4 separate regions of the Homo sapiens genome follow, and all the other regions are linked to region 1. The links come from fine-mapping of genetic effects on gene expression. A gene starts in region 1. Each other region holds a variant in brackets. All regions are shown on one strand. Distances are from middle to middle. Region 1 holds the start of TLE1 (TLE family member 1, transcriptional corepressor). Region 2 has its middle 820 kb from the start of TLE1. Region 3 overlaps TLE1-DT (TLE1 divergent transcript). Region 4 overlaps SPATA31D1 (SPATA31 subfamily D member 1).

What was found. PIP is the estimated chance that this variant, and not a neighbour inherited with it, causes the effect. A credible set is the group of variants that fine-mapping cannot tell apart.
Region 2: its variant is the best candidate, but not a certain one, in a credible set for the expression of TLE1 in fibroblasts (GENCORD, PIP 0.51).
Region 3: its variant is the best candidate, but not a certain one, in a credible set for the expression of TLE1 in aorta (GTEx, PIP 0.83).
Region 4: its variant is the best candidate, but not a certain one, in a credible set for the expression of TLE1 in whole blood (INTERVAL, PIP 0.50).

What each region holds. Positions count from the first base shown.
Region 1 is chr9:81,687,422-81,691,587 of GRCh38, forward strand. It overlaps TLE1 (TLE family member 1, transcriptional corepressor), which reads right to left and starts at 2,126. Exons shown (of 20, transcript NM_005077.5): 1 at 796-2,126; 2 at 1-13. The coding sequence starts at 819. It overlaps TLE1-DT (TLE1 divergent transcript), which reads left to right and starts at 2,292. Exons shown (of 4, transcript NR_109772.1): 1 at 2,292-2,538. RefSeq lists an enhancer at 1,437-2,151 and silencers at 2,024-2,373, 2,524-2,673.
Region 2 is chr9:80,869,260-80,873,425 of GRCh38, forward strand. No RefSeq gene overlaps it. Among named protein-coding and RNA genes, the nearest start is that of TLE1, 820 kb to the right of the region's middle. The variant CAT/C (reference allele first, on the strand shown) is at 1,736.
Region 3 is chr9:81,766,107-81,770,272 of GRCh38, forward strand. All of the region lies in intron 3 of TLE1-DT (TLE1 divergent transcript), which reads left to right. Among named protein-coding and RNA genes, the nearest start is that of TLE1-DT, 78 kb to the left of the region's middle. The variant G/A (reference allele first, on the strand shown) is at 2,331.
Region 4 is chr9:81,990,729-81,994,894 of GRCh38, forward strand. SPATA31D1 (SPATA31 subfamily D member 1) reads left to right here. Exons shown (of 4, transcript NM_001001670.3): 4 at 45-4,166. All of the region lies in intron 1 of LOC105376107 (a long non-coding RNA gene), which reads left to right. Among named protein-coding and RNA genes, the nearest start is that of SPATA31D1, 4.0 kb to the left of the region's middle. The variant T/A (reference allele first, on the strand shown) is at 2,115.

The DNA of each region.
Region 1 (4,166 bases):
CCTGGTGCGGCGTCTGGGGGCGACCAGCGAGGGGGACCGAGGGACGGGAATGCGGGCGGATGAATAAAGCAGTAAGTCAGAGAAGGCAAGAACGGGTGGGACATAAACATAAAGTTAGAAGTGGCTGAAAACGAGGCCCCAAACTCGAGTTTGCCCTTCACTATGGGGAGGGGGAAAGCGGACCCTCCCCGGGCCCCGGCTTCTAAAGAGGCTCGGAAGCTCTTCCCAGTCTCCAGGGCGGATTGCGCTAAGTGCGCCCGGGTCACCAGGCCAAAGGGAAGGGGGCTCCCCGGCGGCCAGGGAAGACCAGGCCAGATTGTCGGTGTCGCCGCCCCTTCCCCCACGGCGGCGATAATGACCCCGGGGACCAGAGGAGAAAAACAACTCCTTTACGCTCCCCATTCCCAGAGTCGCCGGGGCCACCTCCAGACGCACCGGAACCGGGGCCGCATTGACATGTAAATAGGCGAGAGGAGAAACAAAGGGGGGGGCGCCCTGCCCCCACTCGGGGAAGGTAGAGGGGATATGGCTGCAGGAGAGAAACCCCAGCCTTCCCCAGCGCCCCTGTCCGCTCGGTATAGACGTCAAGTAGGAAGGAGCCCAAAGGGAGGGAGAAAATTAAGAGTTTCGGCCCACTCCCCACCCCAGGAAGAGAGGGCCCCAGACCTCCCCAGCCTTACACCGCTGAGGGCGAGAAGGTCCGCCGGGCCTCAGAAGCCACCAGTCTCCCTACCGCCCGGGAGAAGCGCCTCCCCAACGATCCTGGCCCCCCACCACCACCCAGCCGCGCCTCACCGGGTGCCGGCTCTGCGGGAACATCGCTCTGGCGGCGGCCGGGGCTCTGTTCCCCGGCAACTCAATTCTCCGGTCAATTTCCAACTTTAATCCCGCCGAGGAAAATTAAGCCGGAAAGCCAAGCAGAAGCGGGGAGCGCGCTGGCCACGCACGCGCGCTCCGCCGGGCGCACCGGCCACTCGGCGCCCGCAGCTGCTCCGGCTCCCGCTCCCGTCGGTGCGGGCTCCGGCCCTCAGGGCCACATTAGTGGGCGCCCCAGGCCCAGCTGCTTCAAGAACCTGCGCGGAGACGTCGGGCGCTCGGGGACTGTGCGCGGGGGCAGCGCTCCAACCCCCGGCCTCAGCTGCCCGGGCGGGGAGGCGGGGGCGCGGTGACTCCGACCGCACTCCCCTCGGCGATCCGCGTGCGCGGCGCCAGTCCTGGGCAAACAAATCCAGACGGACTGCTTTTCTTTGCTCTTCTCCTGGTCCGCCTCCTCTTCGGGCTTTCCCCGAGGCGGCGGCGGGCGAGGTGCAGGTGGCGCGGCGGCCCCCGCTAACCCCACACAAACCCGACGCTTTCGGGGCGACTCCCGCAAGATTCGGCTGCGCCTTCGGCCGGGTGCTCGCAGGCTCCCGGGACGCAAAGGGGAGCGAGGTTGAAGACGCAGCGGAGGCTCCTGGCCGGGGAGCGACGGATGACGAGGCGGGGAAAGTGCGGAGGGCGCGCCGGGAGGCGGCTCGGCACGCCCCGTGCGACCAGCACTCGGTGTTCTCCGCGGTTGCACAAACCCTCCGGGCCCGACGGGGCTACTCCACCGAGAGCAGTCCCGCAAGTGCCCAATGCTCCTCGAGCCCGGGGAGCATCAGGGCGCCGCGCCTCGGGCGCACTCGCCCTGCACGGCCGGACCGGCCGCTCCGGACCCTTCTTCCGAGCTCCTTCTTCCTCGGTCTTCTTTCTTTCCTTCCTTCACCTTCGTGTGCTTCTCCGCAAAGGGCGCTCCAGCCCACTGCAAAGTTCTCTCACCACCCGAGGGACGACATCCACGAGATGGTGGGGAAAACAGCAGGAGTGCGCTCCGCCAATCGGCCACCCTCCCCGGCGGGCAAACTCTGCGGGCGAGTCCAGAGTAGTCACAGCGGTGGGGCCAGCGGGGGTTTTGGTCGCCGCGGGACGACGGAGGTCCGGGCTGGTGGCGCGGGTCCCGCCCGGCCGTGCGAGGGTGGGGTGGCGCAGTCGGCTGCCTCCGGGACGCGGGGCACAGAGTACCCGCCGCTGTTTCTGCTGCTGCTGCTTCTGCAGCCGCCGCTCCCACCGCCGCCGCCGCCCGCGCCTCTCGCGCCGCTTACATTAACACGCGGTTTCACACTCCGGAGCTAACCAGCGCCGGCCCCGCCCAGCCCCGTTCGGGCGGGGGGCGCGAGCGCGGAGCCGGCGGGGGACGTGAGCCCGGGAGGTTGGGGGGTGGGGGGGGGGCAGAAGGCCCGCATCAGCCAATCGCGTGCGCTGCAACCAACGTGGGGCGCTGACGCGCTCCTCCCCGGAGCGTATGGCAGCGCAGCGCCGGACGGGGCGTTCTCCCTCCCCCCCTCCTCTCGCTTCCATCTCCGCCGTCTCCTCGGTCTCCCTTCCCATCCCGGCCCCTCCTCCGCCAGCCGCGTCCTCCCGGGCTTGGTGAGGAACTGTTCCTGGAGGAGCCGCGGGACGCCAAAACCAGCCAATGGGAAGCGGCGATTCGCGGAGATTGGCACTGATGATGGGAAGGTCGGTGGGAAGGAGAGCGGCGGGGCTGGGCTGTCAATCAAAGTAACGTGGGGCTGGCTAGAGAGCGCGCGGGCGCGCGCTAGCGGGAGGGACTGGCGAGCGTGCAGCCGGGGAAGCTGAGGGCTCGAGTTAGCAAAAATCCTGCCACTTGCTCACTTTTCCCTTTAATGAAAATCCTCAGATCTAAGTGAAAGTAACTCAAAGACTAGCTGCGGAGTTTCTTATTGGAGGCGGAGGGGGGCTTTTGGTAATTCGAGCAAATGTGTTTTTCAGTGCTGGACCCCTTGTTTGATGCTACTCTAAAAGTGAGGCCACATTCAAAAATTTATCTGAGGTTTGTTTTTCCTTGAGCTGCCTTTTTACGGATGTACGAGAGGGAGTGGACTGTGCACTTAGTTGGAAATGCGTAAATGAGCAACGCCACGGTTGGCGTAGGTACACCAGCAAAGACGACTGTGATGTCCTCCCACCCCACCCACCCCCTTTGCACCCAAAGTGGTAGGATTTGATTTTTATTGCAGGATTTCAAGCCACTTTTCAAAAAGATCGTCCTGTCCCGTTTGGCGGGAAGGATTCCCAGGGTGCTGCCAGAACAAGGCACGCGTGTCCGCAGATGAGACGTTTTGCCCGGGGCGCGAAATCCCAGGTCTTCGTCTTAAAAGTCCTGACTTCGCTGTGTTGGGAGAGGTGGGGAGCGGCTGAGGTTTTTAGGAACTTCTCAGCTACAAGACTACGAGTCTGTTTCCAATTCCTGGGAACAAAGAGAGACAATGTAATAAACCAGCACTGAGACCTGAAAAACCTGTCCCGCACACCCCACCCCCACAGTCTGGGTGGTACTCCTGAGCTGAGCTGTGTGAAGAGCTAAATGGGAAGAGTTAGGTAAATGACGTGGCTAAGGTTCTTATGAAGTGGAACTTGAGTTAAAAGGGATTTTGAGATTGTAATAATCAAGACATGCTGTATAATTAATGCTGAGAGTCTTTGGTTTTTGTGTATGTCTCTAAATACACAGCAGAAAACCGTCAGTATTGCCGCATTTATGCTTTTGTTTGAGGAACATTTCCACATGAGCAGTGAATGAATAATGCTGGTTTAGCCAAACGGTGGTAACTTCTTCCATAAGGGCACATCTTGGACAAGTATTTATCTTATGTTGGAAACTAGTTAAGTTTTTGGTATTAATAACCCCCACGTTATTATTTTATTATTTTACCTTCAAGAGACTTACGGGAAGGAGCTTATTTAAACAGACATACATTTTATTTAAAGATGTGCTTTTACAGAGTTCTTTTTCTTGAAATAGTTTTAGAAGTCATTTTAGATAATACATTTCACTGTTGGAGTTGTTTTTAAATATGTATGATATTGATTTGTCTATAATTGCATCACTCCCAAATATCAATTATAAATGAAAAAATAAAAAAGCGATTTTAACCAGTCTGTACGAAGCCATAGTAAATTCTTAAACAAGTTGGGCATTGTAGCTTTGTGGTGTTCTCATTAAGTACAGTTGGGAAGGCGGCTGTATTATTCATTTTGCTAACATGGAGAACAAAAAAGAAGAAAGCACTGCCTCACTTTCCTTGGTTAAATTTGGTGACGATGACAGTTTTGCTCGACATACA
Region 2 (4,166 bases), 820 kb before region 1:
TGGGGACATATCTTTTGTTTAAGAGCATTTGTGGGACATGTAAAATCTTACCAAATCATTTTTTTCCAGAGAAAGCAAACTGAAGGTACTATTTGTTATGCTCCACTATTCAATACTATAAAAAATAAAAGAAAAAGCATCTAAATTATTCTATTTTCATCAGTTATTTTACACAGAAAAACTATACAATTAGAGTTGAATTTCATAATTACTTTTTACTCCAAGATGGAAAATGTGTAGTTAATCAAAAGAGAGTACTGCAAGATTTATTTTTTGCTACCTATTTTCTAGCACATAAAATAGATGGAGAGGCATCCTTAAATCAGCACACCTCACCTTCCCAATCCAGTCACTACTTATTACAAGTTTGATGTAACCCAAAATAAAGTTTACTAGCAAACTATTAAATATAGGCAAATTGTCTTTTTCAACACTGTTAGTTCAGTGATGAGAACCAAGTTTTAAAATAATTGATATTTGGCTCTAAGTTATTGCAATGGGAATGGGTAAATTTGCATCATGAATCCACAACACTTGGAGTAAAGAGTAATTATGAAATTCAAATAACCAAATTCAGTTTACCTAGGATGGTTTTGTTATGGACACACACATCCATGCTCAAAATTCAGCATCACAGGGAAGCAATAAAGCTAGTCAAAGAAAATATACTGAAGGTGGAAAGACACGTATCAGTGACTCAATGTATCAGGTCAGCATATATGTGAAACGGTGATTTTGGACTTATCATATAGGGGACTGAAACATTTTAGCCTATCTCTCCTCAGAGTAAAATTCCACCATGGAGAGGAGGAGCTTCATGAGGAGTTCCAAAGAGCTGTAACATTGCATGAAAGATCTAAGGACGAATTTAATATCTCACTCTCAGGTCTTGGGTACTGGGAGGAGTAGAAAGATAAGTAATTGTCCTTTGACTTTAATGATCCATTGTAGATCTGCACAAAGCAGAATATCTGTAGTAAAGTATAGATAAGAAATTCAGCTCTAGGTAGATTCAGGTAAAACTTGAAATAAGCATTCTTTCATGTTGGATTGCGTTCTTCAGCGTCAAGAGTAGTTTTCTTTTTTCAAGCTCAACCTTTACATCTAGATAGACAGAAAATAAAATAAATATAATCAAAACCATTTACAAGTTGCCATTCACTAATATTGTCTATTTAGTTGAGTAGGATTATCATATCACATGCTTCTATGTCCCTTGCCATTCTGTCCTTACACAGATATGTCTTTGTTTCTTCTTTCTGTTTTTCACAGCCATCAGGTAGGCAATTGACATTTCTAGTGTAATGAAAGAGAAAATAGAGACACAATAAAAATAAGCAAGTTACCAGAGTTTATAATCATAGCTACCAAACTCTGTATTCCTAGTTTGTTTATTTATTCACATATTTGCACTATCTCCTGGGCATATATAAAATAGAGACAAGGGCCAGGCACAGTGGCTCACACCTTTAGTCCCAGCACTTTCCACTTTGGGAGGCTGAGGCAGGACAATTGCTTGAGGCCAGGAGTTTGTGTCCAGCCTGGGTAACATAGCGAGACCCTGTCTCTAAAACAAAACAAACAAAAAACCATATAGGTATATGTGTGTAATATATATAAAATATATAATATGTGTAATATATATAATATATATTATATATAATATGTGTAATACATATATGTTACATAATATGCATAATATATGTTATATATGTAATATATGTTATATAATATA[CAT/C]ATGTTATATATGTGTAATATATATAATATGTGTAATATATAATATATATGTGTAATATATATTATATATAATATGTGTAATATATATAATATATAATATGTGTAATGTAATATATATGTACACACATACACACACACACACACACACACATACATACAGGTATGGTGGCACGCACCTGTAGTCCCAGCTACTCGGGAGGCTGAGGTAGGAGGATCACTTGAGCCCAAGAGTTCAAGGCTGCAGTGAGCTATAATGGTGCCACTGCACTTCAGCCTGGGTGACACAGTGGGATCCTGTCTAAAAATGAATAAATAAATAAATAGTTTTTAAAATAAAATGAGAAAAATAGAGACCTGAAAATGAAAGATGACATATACATTCATTACCAAATATAGAGACAGAATAGACTTATTACAGATTACGACTGCCTCCTCCTCTCATCCCTCCTTAGTAAATGCAGTTCTTATATAGAGGGTACAGTTATCTCATCCTAAATGTTTAAGTCTAACTCATGAGAAACACAGATTTGGCATTAAGAGTAATAACAACATTTTTTTCTAACATTCAATATCATTTCCCATCAATTATCTTACTAAAGTTTGCTTTGCAACTATATTACTCTCACTTTTTAAATATCACTGGCAAACTGTAATATAATTCCTGGACCTTGGTTCAAAGCTTTACAGAAATCTACTCATGAAAATCTCTTCTGCATAATACATAACATGTGGATTTCTTGGCTTAGGAAGAGACCTTTAGAAGGCATGATTCTTTAATAATGTACCATAAAGAAAATGTTTTCAAAGTATGTTTAAGATAAAAATAATCTAATTATATAATTATGGATAGAGAAAGAAAGAGCTCTATGTGGTTAGCCTGGCTCTAACTATGAAAATATGCTTTTCATGGAATTGGCATAGTTTACCAACTAAGACCACAAATATTAAATTGCTCATCATAGGTGGGCTTTCTGTAAGATTTTAATTATGGACAGCCAATGACTGCTCACATATCAATTCAGCTTGAAATCAAACATGGCTGTACTTCCTATATTAAGTGCAATTTAAAGAAAGATCACATTTGATTCATATGTAAATTGCTGGCAAAAATTCTAAAGCTACTTGTTGGCCCATTCTTCTTCTTTGGTAGCCAGGGTAGGAACACATTTTGCCAATGTGAGAAGTTTCTCCATTTTCATGGATTGGGAGATTAATTCCAAACTTAGGAAATACTTTTGGTTTTTTATGTTGTTTACACTTAACAAAGCACAATTTCCAGTTTCGACAAAAAAATATGGACTTAAATACTTTCTGAGCAAATAAACACATAAATATTAAAAAGACTTGCAGGACTAAAAAATAAGAAAGCCATATAAATCTCTTTTGGTTGCACAAGTATACATAACTTAGAAATTTAAGGATCTAGTTTTCTTTAATATATGCCTGGATTTAAAGATTACAGGGAAAAAAAGTATTGAAAAAATAAATTTGATGTTTTATTTTAACTATTATTTATAAAATAATTTATGAAGACATGACTTCAAAACATAGCTGTGTCATCCTTTTCTAATTCATGTATAACAAATGGCAACACTTTAAATATGTCTGTCTTTCATAACATGATGCATGTTTTCCCTCCCCATAAAAACCTCAACTCATGTATAACAGTATTTTTAACTAATAAAACTGCAGTAATCCAAAGAAATTTAGACATGTATAAACTAACTAAATAGATACAGTTTTTCATTTGACATTACTTCAAAATTAAGGTTAGCAAAATATCACCTGGGACTAATTTTCTGAGGCTCAGACTGTTCCGCTCTATGTTTGTAAGGAATGAGAAATGAATGAAGAATTTTTTCTCTCTCAAAGATTTTCAACTGGGCAGTGGCTAAAAAAGAATCAGTCATAGGAAGCCATTTTGAAAATTAACAATCTTTTCAGTGGAAAGTGATGTTTTAGTTTATCTCTTTGGATTTTATATATCTAATGCATATGTATAGACCCAAGAAGCCTACTTGTGGGTGTAGAACAATTTTAGAGCTTGTTTTTTAAAGTATAAAATTCCTAGTGTAGAAATTTATATAAAAATAAACAGATGGAAGGCAAAAGAACATGTGGCCCACAATTTTTAAAATTGGAAAAAAAATTATTTTTCTTGATTCATATTGGAATAGCAACCATAAATGAGGACAATTAGCAGCTTTTCTTTTCCCTTTGATTCAGTAAAATGTTTGTTTGGCTGAAGTAATCAGAATATAAATTTTCCCTGTAAGGGAGTTGCAGAGAATAGTGTATTGGAATTTTATTTTCAACATTTTTTTCTTTTGCAAAAGAAAGACCAACAGAAAATTGTTGTGGTTAATAAAATAGGATTCATAGTAATAGTGATATCACATGTCTAATGTGAACCATAGCAGCTTTATCCA
Region 3 (4,166 bases), 79 kb after region 1:
AAAGTGATGCCTAGAGGATAAGTATAGTGTCCACTGTCTATAGTGAGTAGGGGGCATTGGTAGCCTTGGGGGAAGTTCTGTGGAGTGATGGGGTGGAAGGCAGACGGCAGTGAGCAGAAGCACAAGGAGGCGGTGGTGAAGTAGAGGGGGTGGATGTACACACCTCCACTCCTCCAGGACATGTGACAGTGGGAGATCTGGGGATGGGGCTGGAGTTGGATATAGGGCCTTTGGAGGAATTTTTTTTTTTTTTTTAATCAAATGGGAGACAGTTGAGCTGATGGGCTGAAGCTGGAAAAGTTAAAGGAAAAGGAGAGATAGGAGCTGATGGATGTCATGGAGTCTGTGAGAGGCAGGAGGGGAGGAATCAGAAGACTATAAGAGGATGGGCTTTAAATAGGAGAAGTAGGACACTGCTTCCATTATAACAGGAGAAAAGGCAGGATTTTTGTTTGTTTGTTTTGAGACTGAGTCTCACTCTGTCACCCAGGATGGAGTGCAGTGGCACAATCACAGCTCACTGCAACCCCCGCTTCCTGGGTTCAAGCGATTCTCCTGCCTCAGCCTCCTGAGTAGCTGGGATTACAGGCGTGTGCCACCACGCCTGGCTAATTTTTGTATTTTTAGCAGAGACAGGGTTTCACCGTGTTGGCCAGGCTGGTCTTGAACTCCTGACCTCAAGTGATCCACCCACCTAGGCCTCCCAAAGTACTGGGATTACAGGCGTGAGCCACTGTGCCCGGCCAGGATATTTACTCAACACTTATGACTGGCAGACAAGGAACATGGTCCCATCTCCAGAAGGCTGCAGTCTGGTTGGAGTGGCAAGACATGGCAACAAAGGAGAATAACTCAGTGTGTGATAAGCCTACAGGAAATGAGTGCTGTAGTATTTCAGAAGAGAGCAAGATTAACTCCTGATGCTGTGATCAAGGAAGTTTTCATGAGAAGTGGCATTTGATTTGGGACTTGAAAGCAGAGGAGCATTTTACTAGCTGGAAAAATAAGTGGTCAAAGAAAATAAAGGAGAAGGAGAGTGCATTTCATGTAAATGGACTGGCATGAACAAAGGAATAAAGTAATGTATTTTAATTGGTTTATCCTTTTGGCAAAGAAACAGGGACAATTTTTTTTTTTTGGTCTATACTCTGATAAAACACGGCAATTTGGAGGAAGAAAGAGACTTTAGAGATTATCTCATCATATGTCCTTTTTTTTCTAGGTATGAAAACTGAGGTGCAGAAAGAAATAACTATTGAAAGTCACAAAACTGTTAAGTGACAGAGTTGGGCTCTGGCTCACAAGTGTAGCTTCCACAATACCATTATTGTACAGGTTGTAAGGATAGAATATATTTAGTAAAACCACACCAAATTTTGTTGATTTACATCAGAAGTGCAAGGGAGTAAAGACTAGATGAATTTTTAGATGTTTTTTTAAAAAAGAAATATAGTTGTAATCCCAGCACTTTGGGAGACTGAGGCAGGAGGATTATTTGAGCCCAGGAGTTCAAGACTAGCCTGGGCAAAAAGTGAGACTTCCTCTTTACAAACAAGCAAAAAATTAGCCAGGTGTGATGGTGCATCTGTAGTCCCAGCTACTTGGAAGGCTGAGGTGGGAGGATCACTTAAGCCCATGTGGTTGAAGCTGCAGTGAGCCATATTCACGCCACTTCAGTCTGAATAACCAAGTGAGATCTTGTGTCAAAAAAGAAATACAGTTATGTTGTCATAGTGATTACAATTCCAACAAAGTTTTGCTACACAGGCATGTCATTGTAACCTACATAAATGGAGAGACAAGAATGATTTGTTATTGAGAGATTAACTGATGACTTCCTGCTATTCACCAGACTTATCCTGGTCTCCAATGTCATGGCCAAATTAAGCCCCAATTGGCCAAAAGTGAAATTGAAAAAAAAATCTATGTTAACTCAAAGTATGAATTCACAAAAGAGCAGGAGAAAGATGATGAGAAGGTATTAGTTTCCTATGGCTGCTATAACAAGTTAGCACTTTTGGGGCTTCAAACAACACAGATTTATTATTTTACAGTTCTGAAGACCAGAAGTCCAACACAGGTCTCAGTGGGCTGAATCAACTTTTGGCACAGCTACATTCCTTTCTGGAGGTTGTAGAGGAGAATTTGTTTTCTGCCTTTTCTGACTTCCAAAGACTGCCCACTTTCCTTGGCTTGTGGCCCTCCTCCTCTTCTGCTAAAGCCAGCGACATTGCACCTCCCTCAGGGAACTTTATCACCCCCCTGACCACAGCTGAAAAAGGTTCTCTGCTTTTAAGACTCATGTGATTAGACTGGGCACAGTGGCTCAC[G/A]CCTGTAATCCCAGCACTTTGGGGGACTGAGGCAGGCAGATCACTTGAGGCCAGGAGCTCAAGACCAGTCTGGCGAACATAGCAAAACCCCGTCTCTACTTTAAAAACTACAAAAATTAACCAGGCAGGCCCCTATAATCCCAGCTACTAGGGAGGCTGAGGCATGAGATTCGCTTAAGCCCGGGAGGTGGAGGTTGCAGTGAGCTGAGATCGAGCCACTGCACTCCAGCCTGGGCGACAGAACAAGACTCTCATCTCAAAAAAAAAAAAAAAAAAAAAAAGACTCATGTAATTAGATTGGGAAATTGGATAATTCAGGCTTCTCTCCTTATGTCAAAGTTCTTAACCTTAAAATCACATCCATAAGGTCCCTTTGCCACAGAAAGAACAATTTCACAGGCTCTGGCATTAAGATATGGACATATTTGGGGATCCATTATTATTTTGCCTAATACAAAGAAGAAGGAGGAGGAAAAGACATACTGTGAATTATTAGAGAGATGACTTATAAATAATTAGAAAAGAAAATGAGCATCAAGAGCCAGTATAAATTCATTAAATCATAGCAGATATTTTCTTATGTAGCAGAGTTACTAGGCAAATAGATATGGGGAATGCCAGAGACAAATTGATCCTCCGGTTTTTCTCTTAGGATGTGCTTGTGGAAATATAATAGCATTTGTGTAGGGTGTCAATGCAGCACGTCTATTCACAACTCATTAAACGACTGCTGAAAACTGCGAACAGGCATAAACCTGATGAAGGTCTCCTGGTGTGTCATGGGGGTGTCTGTCCTTGGTCCATCTATCTGTAGCATGACCAGCAACCAGGATGAAGACTTGAAGGTCAGGTGTATCTGATCTGCAGGTGACACAACAGTATATAAATCTAAAGAAAATCTCAATACGCTGGGAAGATAAGATGAACACACATTAATGTTACAATAGTAAACATGAAGTCTGAAATGTCAGGGAGAAAATCAGTTGAATAAAGGAAGGATGGGACTGAATTTGGTGTCAGTTTCTGTGGAAAATTAAAAACAAGGCTGGGTACAGTGGCTCACACCAGTAATCCCAGCACTTTAGGAGGCCGAGGTGGACAGATCATCTGAGATCAGCAGTTCGAGACCAGCCTGGCCAACATAGTGAAACACTGTCTCTACTGAAAAATACAAAAAAATTACTCGGGCATAGTGGCGGGCACCTGTAGTCTCAGCTACTCGGGAGGCTGAGGCAGGAGAATCGCTTGAACTCAGGAGGCAGAGGTTCCAGTGAGCCAAGATAGCACCATTGCACTCCAGCCTGGGTGACAAAAAGAGACTCTGTTTAAAAAAAAAAAAAAAAAAGCAATTGCTGTGTCTGTGAAAGTAAAAATTATATTAAGGGCATCAATTAGCAATTTTTTTTTTGAGACAAAGTCTTTCTCTGTCCCCCAGGCTGGAGTGCAGTGGCGCGAACTCTGCTCACTGCAACCTTTGCCTCCCAGGTTCAAGAGATTCTTGTGCTTCAGCCTCCCTAGTAGCTGCGACTACAGGCATGTGCCCCTACGCCTGGCTAATTTTTGTAGTTTTAGTAGAGATGGGGTTTCACCATATTGGCCAGGCTGGTCTCGAACTCCTGACCTCAAATGATACGCCCACCTCAGCCTCCCAAAGTGCTGGGTGTGAGCCACTGTGCCCAGCCCAATAGCAATTTTTTGAGCATCTACTATGTACCAGGTACTGTGCTAAGGGGCTTTACATGTCATATATTTTCACCCTCACCAAAAAATCTATAAGGAAATAATGATTATCTCTGTTTCACAGATGAAGGTAGGATTCAGAGACGTGAAGCAACT
Region 4 (4,166 bases), 300 kb after region 1:
CCAGGCTAACAAATCTCCTTTCCTTGTTCTGGTCCTGACTGCAGCTTTGGACCTCCTGTTTCCTGCAGTCCTCGGGGCCAGCATCATGATACCAACCACTTTCGTCGACTGTTATGCCCAGACCCCGTCTGTCGGGTGTGTAAGAGAGCAACTGCTGATATCCAGCAACTGCTGTCTTGGGAGTCCCTGAAAGATGCTGCTCCCTCTGTGTCCCCTTTGGCTTCTTCGGCTTCTGCGACTGAGTCATCGTTCACTCTGGCTTCCACCCCCTCAGCAACCCCTCCAGAAGACCTAATACTGTCCCCTCGGCCTAAGGCCTCTCCACCACCCCCCTTAATTCTCTCACCTGACCTGATCACCACCTTAGCTGACTTATTTTCACCCTCACCACTGAGGGACCCTCTGCCACCACAGCCTGTTTCTCCCTTGGATTCCAAGTTCCCCATAGACCATTCCCCACCCCAACAGCTTCCCTTTCCCCTTCTCCCACCACATCACATTGAGAGAGTGGAGTCCAGCCTCCAACCTGAAGCCAGTTTGTCTCTGAACACCATCTTTTCATTTGGCTCCACCCTATGCCAAGATATTTCGCAGGCCATGAATCCCATTGATTCTTGTGCTCGTCATCACGGACCACCAATCCCATCTGCTTTACCACCGGAAGATTGCACTGTGACTCAGTCTAAATCAAGTCTCACCATCTTGAAGACTTTTCCGGAAATGTTATCTCTAGGTGGCTCTGGTGGGTCATCCACCTCTGCCCCAACAATCAAAGGCATTGACCATTCACACCTTGCATCTTCAGAATTCACCTGGTGGCAGCCTCATGCCAAGGACTCTTTTTCCTCTAATTTTGTGCCATCTGATTTCATGGAGGAGCTTCTTACCCTTCATTCTTCTGAGGCCTTTTTAGGGGGGCACTCTGTGGCCAACCTCATAGAGCCTGTTAACATCTCATTTCTCAGCCATGACATTCTGGCACTCCTGGAGAGACAAGTCAAAAAAAGGGGTGATTTCCTGATGTGGAAAGAAAATGGAAAGAAACCAGGATCATTCCCAAAACAACTTAGGCCAAACTACCAACTAAATTCCTCACGGAATATGTTAACCTCAATTGCTGTTAAGCATGACTTGGCAGAATCCTTTCCTTTTTGGGCCAGTAAAGGCAAACTAGAATGGCAGCACATCCATCAGCAGCCTCCACACTCTAAATGCTTTGAAGACCATTTAGAGCAAAAATATGTCCAGCTCTTCTGGGGTCTCCCATCTTTGCACAGCGAGTCTCTGCATCCTACTGTTCTTGTCCAACGTGGCCATTCCTCCATGTTTGTATTCTTCAATGGCATTACAAATACATCTATATCCCATGAATCCCCAGTACTTCCCCCTCCCCAACCTCTGTCCTTGCCTAGTACCCAACCACTACCCTTGCCTCAAACCCTGCCCCAAGGTCAGTCCCCACATCTCACTCAGGTGAAGTCCCTGGCTCAACCTCAATCTCCATTCCGAGCCCTACTACCTAGTCCTCTATTCCTGATTAGGATCTGTGGAGTGTGTTTTCATAGACCCCAGAACGAGGCACGGTCTCTTTTGCCATCTGAAATTAACCATCTGGAGTGGAACGTGTTGCAGAAAGTGCAGGAAAGTTTGTGGGGCTTACCCTCTGTGGTTCAAAAATCCCAGGAAGACTTTTGTCCTCCAGCTCCCAATCCTGAATTGGTCAGAAAGTCCTTCAAGGTCCATGTTCCGATCTCCATCATTCCTGGAGATTTTCCACTCAGCTCTGAGGTAAGGAAGAAACTAGAGCAACACATTCGAAGGAGGCTCATCCAGCGCAGATGGGGCCTGCCCCGCAGAATCCATGAGTCTCTGTCATTGCTACGTCCTCAGAGCAAAATTTCAGAGCTATCTGTGTCAGAGAGAATTCATGGACCGTTAAATATCTCTTTGGTTGAGGGTCAGAGGTGCAATGTTCTAAAGAAGTCCGCATCAAGCTTCCCTAGAAGCTTCCACGAGAGGAGCTCAAATATGCTTTCCATGGAGAATGTGGGGAATTATCAGGGATACAGCCAGGAGACTGTCCCAAAAGATCACCTGTTGCATGGTCCGGAGAC[T/A]TCTTCAGACAAGGATCTGAGGTCTAACTCTGAGAGAGACCTAGAAACTCATATGATGCATCTGTCAGGGAATGACTCAGGGGTGAGACTAGGTCAGAAACAACTTGAAAATGCCCTGACAGTACGTTTGAGCAAGAAATTTGAGGAAATCAATGAGGGTCGAATGCCTGGGACTGTGCATAGTTCATGGCACTCAGTCAAGCAGACAATGTCTCTTCCTGAGAAATCCCACAGCCAAATTAAACATCGAAATCTGGTAACATTGGTGAGTGAGGACCACTGCGTTGATACTTCCCAGGAAATTTCCTTCCTTAGTTCCAACAAACAAAAGATGTTGGAAGCCCATATTAAAACTTTCCGTATGAGGATGCTGTGGGGCCTTCCCCTCAAGGTCCTTGAATCCATAGAAATCTTCAAATCGAAAGCGGACCTTTCCACTTCCTTTTCCCATTTCGACCTTCCCTCCTCAGCCACCTTCATCTCTCAGGGAGATTCCAAAGATGGGGTCTCTAAGTCCCGTAGTCGAAGCACTTTTCAAGGAGAAAAGTTGGGAACAACAAGCTCAGTCCCCATCCTTGATCGTCCTCACCCTGTCTCCTCACCTGTCGTCCAAGAAGGGCAGGGGACCCTGAGAAGACAATTTTCTGATACTGACCATGACCTTATAGAGACAGATTCCAAAGACGGGGCCTCCACATCCCTTAGAAGAGGTACTACAGATTTTCAAAGCGAAAAATTAGATTCAACAAGCTCATTCCCCATCCTCGGTCATTCTTACCTTGTCACTTCACCTGTCAACCAAGAAAAGCAGGGGACCCTGAGAAGAGAATTCTCTGATACTGACAATGATCTTACAGAAAGTGTCCGGACAACAGAGGATGGCAGACAGACTTTTCTGCCCCCGCCACACAGCATCGTAGACGAAGTCAGTCAGAAACAGACTGTACTGGCCAGTAGATGCAGCGCAGAGCTGCCCATAATGCAAGCTGGAGCTGGCTGTGAGTCATGGGATAAGAGAAAGAGTTCCTTTCATAATGTAGACAGGCTTCAGGGCAGTAGAAAGACCTTTCCTGTCACCAATGCTCTTCAATCACAAACTAGGAACAACTTGACAACCAGCAAGTCAGGAAGCTGCTCACTGACAAATGTGAAAGCAAGCACTTCCAATGAAACTGAAATTTTCCCACCAAGAATATCAGTTCCTCAAGATCCTAAATCATCATACCTTAAAAATCAGATGTTGAGCCAGTTAAAGTTGGTCCAGAGGAAGCATAGCCAACCTCAGAGCCATTTCACTGACATGTCTTTTGCCTTAGATAACTTGAGTTCCAAGGACTTACTGACTAATTCCCAGGGCATCTCGAGTGGGGACATGGGAACTTCCCAGGTGGTGCATGTCCACTTGGAGGACAGCGGAATCCGTGTGGCACAGAAGCAGGAGCCCAGGGTCCCTACCTGTGTCTTACAGAAGTGTCAAGTTACGAATTTCCCACCAGCTGTAAACAGAGTGAGTCCTGTGAGACCCAAAGGAGGAGAGCTTGATGGAGGGGATGCAGGGCTGGGGACATCCCAACGCAGGAGAAAGAGCCTCCCTGTTCATAACAAGACATCAGGGGAGGTGCTTGGGAGCAAATCTTCCCCAACCTTGAAAACACAGCCTCCTCCTGAAAACCTTTTCAGAAAATGGATGAAGACCTCTTTGCAGTGGTTTAATAAACCCAGCATATCATATGAAGAACAAGAAAGTTCCTGGGAAAAGGGTAGCTCCCTGTCATCATGTGTGCAGAATATTGGTCGAGTTATAAGAGCTGCCTTTACTGGGACTACTGAAGCTCAGAAAATTAGGAAAGACACTAGGGAGTTCCTAGAAGAGAAGCTGGGGCATAGGCATGGGATAGATATCACCTGTCCCCAAGAGCCCCTTTCCTTCCCAGTGGGGCTTGGGAAAGCTCAGCACAACCCAGAAGTGCATGTCAGAGCAGAGCCTGTCCAGGGCTGTCCCTGCAACTACAGGGCTCCCTCCTGCAAAGTGACACGTACCAAATCTTGCAG